Homo sapiens: one gene and its partner. The protein of the gene in region 1 purifies or fractionates together with the protein of each later gene. This does not show direct contact. Each region holds a gene or a part of one and is shown on either strand. Other genes may lie near its edges.

The links.
Region 2: the proteins of CPXCR1 (region 1) and DDI2 purify together in Homo sapiens (affinity purification with mass spectrometry; one large-scale study listed by BioGRID and IntAct). This does not show direct contact.

The regions. Positions count from the first base shown.
Region 1 is NC_000023.11:88,745,659-88,749,580, forward strand, and holds the start of CPXCR1 (CPX chromosomal region candidate gene 1 protein), read left to right. Parts: upstream 1-1,566; 5' UTR 1,567-1,711; intron 1,712-3,659; 5' UTR 3,660-3,765; intron 3,766-3,922.
Region 2 is NC_000001.11:15,648,366-15,652,187, forward strand, and holds part of DDI2 (protein DDI1 homolog 2), read left to right. Parts: intron 1-1,354; coding exon 1,355-1,458; intron 1,459-3,340; coding exon 3,341-3,530; intron 3,531-3,822. UniProt on the Homo sapiens protein: Aspartic protease that mediates the cleavage of NFE2L1/NRF1 at 'Leu-104', thereby promoting release of NFE2L1/NRF1 from the endoplasmic reticulum membrane.

The DNA of each region.
Region 1 (3,922 bases):
TCTCGCTGGCTCAGGAGTGAAGCTGCAGACCTTCGCCGTGAGTGTTAGAGCTCTTAAGGCGGCGCGTCTGGAGTTGTTCGGTCCTTCTGGTGTGTTCGTGGTCTCGCTGGCTCCAGGAGTGAAGCTGTAGACCTTCACGATGAGTGTTACAGCTCATAAAAGCAGTGTGGACCCAAAGAGTGAGCAGCAGCAAGATTTATTGCAAAGAGTGAAAGAACAAAGCTTCCACAACGTGGAAGGGGAGCCCAGCGTATTGCCACTGCTGGCTCCCCAGCCTGCTTTTATTCTCTTATCTGGCCCCACCCACATCCTGCTGATTGGTCCATTTTACAGAGAGCTGAGTGGTCTGTTTTGAGAGGGTGCTGATTGGTGTGTTTACAATCCCTGAGCTAGACACAAAGGTTCTCCACATCCCCACTAGATTAGCTAGATACAGAGTGTGACACAAAGGTTCTCCAAGTCCCCACCAGAGTAGCTAGATACAGAGTGTCGATTGGTGCATTCACAAACCCTGAGCTAGACACAGGGTGCTGATTGGTGTGTTTACAAACCTTGAGCTAGATAGAGAGTGCCCATTGGTGTATTTACAATCCCCTAGCTAGACATAATGGTTCTCCAAGTCCCCACCAGAGTCAGGAGCCCAGCTGGCTTCACCCAGTGGATCCTGCACTAGGCCGCAGGTGGAGCTGCCTGCCAGTCCCGCCGTGTGCCCGCACTCCTCAGCCCTTGGGTGGTCAGTGGGACTGTGCGCTGTGGAGCAGGGAGCAGCGCTCGTGGGGGAGGCTGGGGCTGCACAGGAGCCCACAGAGGAGGGGGAGGCTCAAGCATGGAGGGCTGCAGGTCCCAAGCCCTGCCCCTTGGGGAGGCAGCTAAGGCCCTGCGAGAAATTGAGCACAGCAGCTGCTGGCCCAGGTGCTAAGCCCCTCACTGCCCGGGGCTTGCAGGCCAGCCGGCCGCTCTGAGTGCGGGTCCCCTGAGCCCACGCCCACCCGGAACTCGTGCTGGCCTGTAAGCGTAGTGCACAGCCCTGATTCCCGCCGGAGCCTCTCCCTCCACACCTCCCTGCAAGCTGAGGGAGCTGGCTCCGGCTTTGGGCAGCCCAGAAAGGGGCTCCCACATTGCAGTGGGGGGCTGAAGGGCTCCTCAAGCGCGGCCAGAGTGGCCGCCAAGGCCGAGGAGGCGCCGAGAGTGAGCGAGGGCTGCGAGAGCTGCCAGCATGTTGTCACCTCTCAATATGTTATCATATTTGGTACATATTTATACTAAAAAAGTATTGTTTATAAGAAATTCAAATTTTACTGGTGTCTTGTATTACATCTGGCAATCCTGTCTTCACACTGTTTCAATATTGGGAATATTGCATATAGTTAGGATTTTGTGTGTGATACGGCAAGAGTTATAAACTCATGGGTGTTCCCAGCCTTAACTCTTTGCCTGCCATCTAAAGAAGATTTTGAATTTGCCATTTCAGTTATTCCCTCCCCCTACAGTCTGAAGAGGGTTCTAGGTTGCTAGGTTTCCATGTTTTGTGGGCATTGTGATGCAGAGTCAAAAGAACTGTGAAACAGGAGTAAGTGGAGAGGTAGAGGGCAGAAGAAAAGGGGTCAAGAAGGCAGGACCCCGTGAAGCACACCTTTCCTAAGGATTTTGACGAATGAGAATGAAGATAAACTGTGAGTTGAAAGTGAAAGAGAAAGCATAAGGGATCTTAGTAAGTGCTTCTTAGCTTGTGTATCCATTTTAGAATATACGTAAGAAATTATTTTAAAGTTAGCTTTGGTTTCTTGATTTATCATTTGTTGATGTAGATCTTATTCTGAGAGTTGTCGCTCTGGGTCAGGGATTTAATATGTTCACATATGTTTGATATGAACATATGCAGAAAAGTTCCTGGTTTCATTTGTCACAACATTTTGAGTGATGCAATCATTTTAAAGTAAAACTAACAAATTTGAAAGAAACAGAAGATAAGGTCCCTCAATTGAAGAAATTAGGATATGGTGGGGATTTCTGGCCAGTCATGAGTGCATGGGAATCAGAAGGCATATGTTAGTTGAAGCTCTTTCATCTGAGGTGAAGTGAACTTGTATATTGGAGGGGTTTGTCAGCAGGGAAAGATGGGACATTTACATAAAGAAGTCTGATTGAGCTGATGAGTCATTAATGTAATTTAGTGTAAAATATTTAAAGTTTTGTTAGAAGTAATGCATGTCTTTCTCCAGAGCATGTGGGCATTGGAGGATACAGTATAAATAGAATACAAATAAACTACTTTCAATATAAAGGATAATCAAAACTGATTTAGAAAGATTCAAAACAGTCAGGTTCTTTTAAAACTCCATATGTATCTTTTGATTCTCAACAGGTCATTATGTAAAAATCTTGGTCAGAAGAGAATATTTGAAAACACAACCCTGGTATTTAGAATAAAGTGTAATATTGTGCTTCTTCAGGGCCCTGATTATCAACTCAAATGTCATTTATTTTAAGGATTTTAAACATTATAATTTTAAAAGCTATCAGGCATATACATCTACATTTATCTTTGTGGAAAAAATGATTTTGGTTTTCTGTATAACAAACAGTGAAATGTTGTGTGTGTGTGTGTGTATACATACACTGAAGCATTTTGGTTTATTTTTAATATATATTAAAATTTATATTTAATGTATATATATTTTTAGTGTTTATATTTAATACATATATTTATAATGCTCTATGTAAGTGAAGTATAGAACACTAAATACTTTAAAAATACCAGAAAACAGAAGAAAACAGCAGACTCGGTGGTAAACACAGTCATTTGGCTGAGTTATTTAAAAAAAAAGATTAAATAAGAAAGACATATGATTGTTGACTATTTCCAAACATATGTCCAAACATTAAATAATAAATATTGAGAGGTTTAACAGAATACATATAGCCTTCTTGTGCAATTCCAGGGAACGTTTAATTTTTAATGAGTAATAATAAACTTAAGTACATAGTTTTGTGATGTAATTACATTTCAGAGGGCAATACGCCTTTAGATATCACATATTATGTTTATTGAAAAACCAGTCTTAACATAGTTGAGTGACATAAATATATGTGATAAATATACTAGTATATTCACAATGAACACTGGATATTTCTTTTGTGTGTGTGTGTGTGTGTGTGTGTGTATTTACATATGTATTTTTTTCTTTTTTTTTTGTCTCACATACTTATCTTTATTTTTTGTAGTGAGAACACTTAAAATCTACCCTTTTAGCAATTTTCTTTTTTTTTAAATTTTATTATTATTATACTTTAAGTTTTAGGGTACATGTGCACAACATAAAGTTTTGTTACATATGTATGCATGTGCCATGTTGGTGTGCTGCACCCATTAACTCGTCATTTAGCATTAGGTATATCTCCTAATGCTATCCCTCCCCCCTCCCCCCACCCCACAACAGTCCCCGGTGTGTGATGTTCCCCTTCCTAACACTGGATATTTCTTATATACAAACCTATTTCAGAATGTAGAAGGGAACAATGAATCTCATAGTTATCCTGAATGTGCAAGTGGAAGACCCTACCAAACAGCAGAGCAGCATAGATGCTTTTCTTGGGGGAAGAAGGTGCAGGAGCTATTTTTTCCTTTCTTTTATGAAAATATCTTTATTTGTTTTCAGGGTGCATCTGACAAGCCTTAGATGACCTCCAGCAACTTCAGTTCTCACCGAATTACTGCATTTCAGCCTTACTGAGAAGCAGCCAGTCATACTATCCTCAAATTTTGTGAGTTCAATTTACTTTATTTAGAAAGTCTCTAAAATGTAGACTCTGTCTATTGTTTTACCTTGATGCTAACTGCTGATGCTGAGATGTTTATGTAGAGAGATTTTCCAATTGCCAATATTAAAAACATAAAACTCAGCAAAGCTTAGCAAGGACC
Region 2 (3,822 bases), on another chromosome or scaffold:
AAAGGAAAGCTTTACCATGGATTAGAGATTCAGTATGTTGGGGGTGGCAGTTCTCCCACATTAATCCACAGAACCATTGAGATGCCATCAAAATCCTGGTAGATTTTTTGTGAGACTGGATGTGCTCATTTTAAATTTGGCGTGGGCCCTATATTGTGAGAATGGGCAAAATACTCTAGAAAAACATTGCCTTCTAGATATCAAAGGACTATCTAGAAGATATGAGTAGAAACAAACCCATGATTCTATGAACATTGATCAATGAGAGGAAGTCTTACAGAGCAATGGGGAAATGTTAGGAAATGTTGCTGGGACAAGAGGTATCCATGGGGAGAAATGAATTAGAAATCGGACCCTACCCACACCACACAAAAGCAAATTCAGAGTAAACACCTAGATGCAGGGGAGGGAGGATTGCTTGAGCCTAGGAGTTTGAGACCAGCCTGGGCAACGTAGCAGACCCTGTCTCAAAAAAAAAAAAAAAAAACAACCCTAAAACCTAGATGTGGAAAGGAAAATTAAAGATTTTAGCAGAAAATACACAATATCTTGTGTAAGGAAGGAGTTCTTTAAAAATAGGTCATCTGCTGGGTGTGGTGGCTCACTCTTGTAATCCCAGCACTTTGGGACGCCAAGGCAGGGATGACTGCCTGAGGCCAGAAGTTCAAGACCAGCCTGGTCAATATAGCGAGACTCAATCTCTACAAAAAGTTTTTGGCTGGGTGCAGTGGCTCACGCCTGTAATCCCAGCACGTTGGGAGGCCAAGGTGGGTGGATCACGTGAGGTCAGGAGTTCAAGACCAGCCTGGCTAACATGGTGAAACCCTGTCTCTACTAAAAATGTAAAAATTAGCTGGGCGTGGTGGTGCGTGTTTGTAATCCCATCTACTTGGAAGGTTTAGGCAGAGAATCAGAGAACACAGGAGGCAGAGGTTGCAGTGAGCCGAGATCACGCCACTGCACTCCAGCCTGGGCAACAGAGCAAGACTCTGTCTCAAAAAATAATAATGAAAAGAACTTTTCAGCTGGACACGGTGGCTCATACCTGTAATCCCAGCACTTTGGGAGGCCAAGGTGGGCAGATAACCTGAGGCCAAGAGTTTGAGACCAGCCTGACCGACATGGCAAAACCCCGTCTCTACTAAAAATACCAAAATTAGCCAGGCGTGGTGGCACATGCCTGTAATCCCAGCTACTTGGGAGGCTGAGGCAAGAGAATCACTTAAACCCGGGAGGCAGAGGTTGCCATCAGCCAGGATTATGCCATTGCACTCCAGCCTGGGCAACAAGAGCGAAACTCCGTCTCTGTTTTGAAGTACGTAACAATAACCTTTTCTCTTCATGTGCTTTTTAGCTCAGGTTCAGATTGAAGGAGATTTTTTGCCATGTTCCTTCTCTATACTTGAGGAACAGCCCATGGACATGCTTCTGGGACTGGACATGCTTAAACGGCACCAGGTAATTAAGAGCTTCACTTATTTTTTTTGCATCTGCTTTTTGTAATATGGTCATTATCACATTATTTTTATTGGTTACATATACTGGAAAACTAAGAAATAACGACTTTTCAAACCTGGAAATGTCCTTAAATTATGTTGCTATACAGAGGTTGAAATGATGTGTCGATATAGATAGAATCTGTTTTTGTGAAATCTCTCTGTGAATCTGTTAAATCTTGCCAAATGTTTTGAGATTGTAAAGGACAGTTTGGTTCCCTTGTATAATTTTCAGATTCTGGTTAGATCCTGATTAGTAGTTTTTTGATGACCTGACTAAAAAGTGTGAGTCAAGTAAGTCTTTAGCATTCTCTGATGCTGATCAAACAGTACTTGGGAAGAAGACCTTCAAGGTTAAGGAAGGTATATGTTGGGAGTGAAAGTGTTTATTTAGTACAGGGTGCATAATTAATATATTAATTTGTGTTGATATTTATCTTTCTACTCTAAAGCACAATAATTTGAGATATACTGCCGTCGTTGAAGAAGCAGTTAGTCCACTGGGTATTTAGATGAGATTAGGCATGCTCAGGGTGGTATGGCTGTAGACCTCACTGGGTACTTCACATTTTTCACAGTAGGGTTTTATATCCAGTCAACCTGCCAGGTACAGTGGTACATGCCTGTAATTCCAGCATTTTGGGAGGCCAAGGAGGGAGGATTGCTTGAGGCCAGAATGAGTTTGAAACCAGTCTGGGTAACTTAGTGAGACCCTGTCTCTACAAAAAGTACAAAAATTAGCTAGGCGTGGTGGTACATTAGCTACTCGTGAGGCTGAGGCAAGAGGATCCCTTGAGACCAGGCTGCAGTGAGTCAAGATTGTGCCACTACACTTCAGCCTGGGTAACAGAGCAAAACCACATCTCAAAAAACAAAATTGAGTTAAAAACAATTGAAAATATAGCTAATCAATATTTTTATGTCACTATTTTAAAATATTTCTGTAAAAGTAGATGCATCATATTGATAATAAGACACAGCATTCTATTTATTTATTTATTTATTTATTTTGAGATAGCGTCTCGCTCAGTTGCCCAGGCTGGAGTGCAGTGGTGCAATCTTGGCTAACTGCAAGCTTCGCCTCCTGGGTTCACGCCATTCTCCTGCCTCAGCCTCCCGAGTAGCTGGGACTACAGGCACCCATCACCACGCCCGGCTAATTTTTGTATTTGTAGTAGAGACGGGGTTTCACCTTGTTAGCCAGGATGGTCTCGATCTCCTGACCTCGTGATCCGCCCGCCTCAGCCTCCCAAAGTGCCGGGATTACAGGCGTGAGCCACCACGCCCGGCTCACAGCATTCTAAATAGAACGAATGAATGAATGAGTGTATGTATCAATAAAACCTTGTCACTGCCTTTCCTTATTTTTTTAGTCATGGTATAGACCAGCAGTCTCCAACTTTATAGATGTAAATCATATATGTGCACAACTGTCTATTAAGTAGTTATAAAATACACAAAAAAGGAAGTTAGCATTAGCATGGAGTAAAGAATACTGTGGAGATTGCCTTGCGTGGCACAATCTTGGCTCACTGCAACCTCTGCCTCGCAGGTTCAAGTGATTCTCCTGCCTCAGCCTCCCAAGTAGCTGCGATTATGGGCATGTGCCACCACGCCTGGTTAATTTTTGTATTTTTAGTAGAGGTGGGGTTTCACCGTGTTGGCCAGGCTGGTCTGGAACTCCTGACCTCAGGTGATCTGCCCTCCTCAGCCTCCCAAAGTGCTGGGATTACAGGCATGAGTCACCGTGCCTGGCCATTTGTGATTGGAGTTTTAAATTAAGGAGCATAATTTTTCTGCATGGTGTTTTATCTGCTATTATTCTTTGGTTTCTTTCTTCCAAGTGTTCCATCGACCTGAAGAAAAATGTACTCGTGATCGGCACCACAGGCTCCCAGACCACCTTTCTTCCTGAGGGAGAGCTACCAGAGTGTGCCCGGTTGGCATATGGGGCTGGAAGAGAGGATGTACGGCCAGAGGAGATTGCAGACCAAGAATTAGCAGAAGCCCTTCAAAAATCAGCAGAGGATGCAGGTATTTGGGATGGCCAAACTCTTCAATACTTGTTATTGATGGGTAAGCCCGGGAAGTGTGGGCTTCAGAAGGGGTAGGAACCTTTCCAGTTTTTAATTAGTCTCATGGTCCAGTAGTAGATGTGTTCATTATTTGTCTTCTTAACCTCCTTCTTTGATCTTCCTTTTTTTTTTTTTTTTTTTTTTTTGGAGACATTGTCTCACTCTGTCACCCAGGTTGGAGTGCAGTGTGCAGTGTGACATGATTGTAGTTCACTGCACCCTTGACTTCCTGGGCTCAAGCAGTCCTCTCA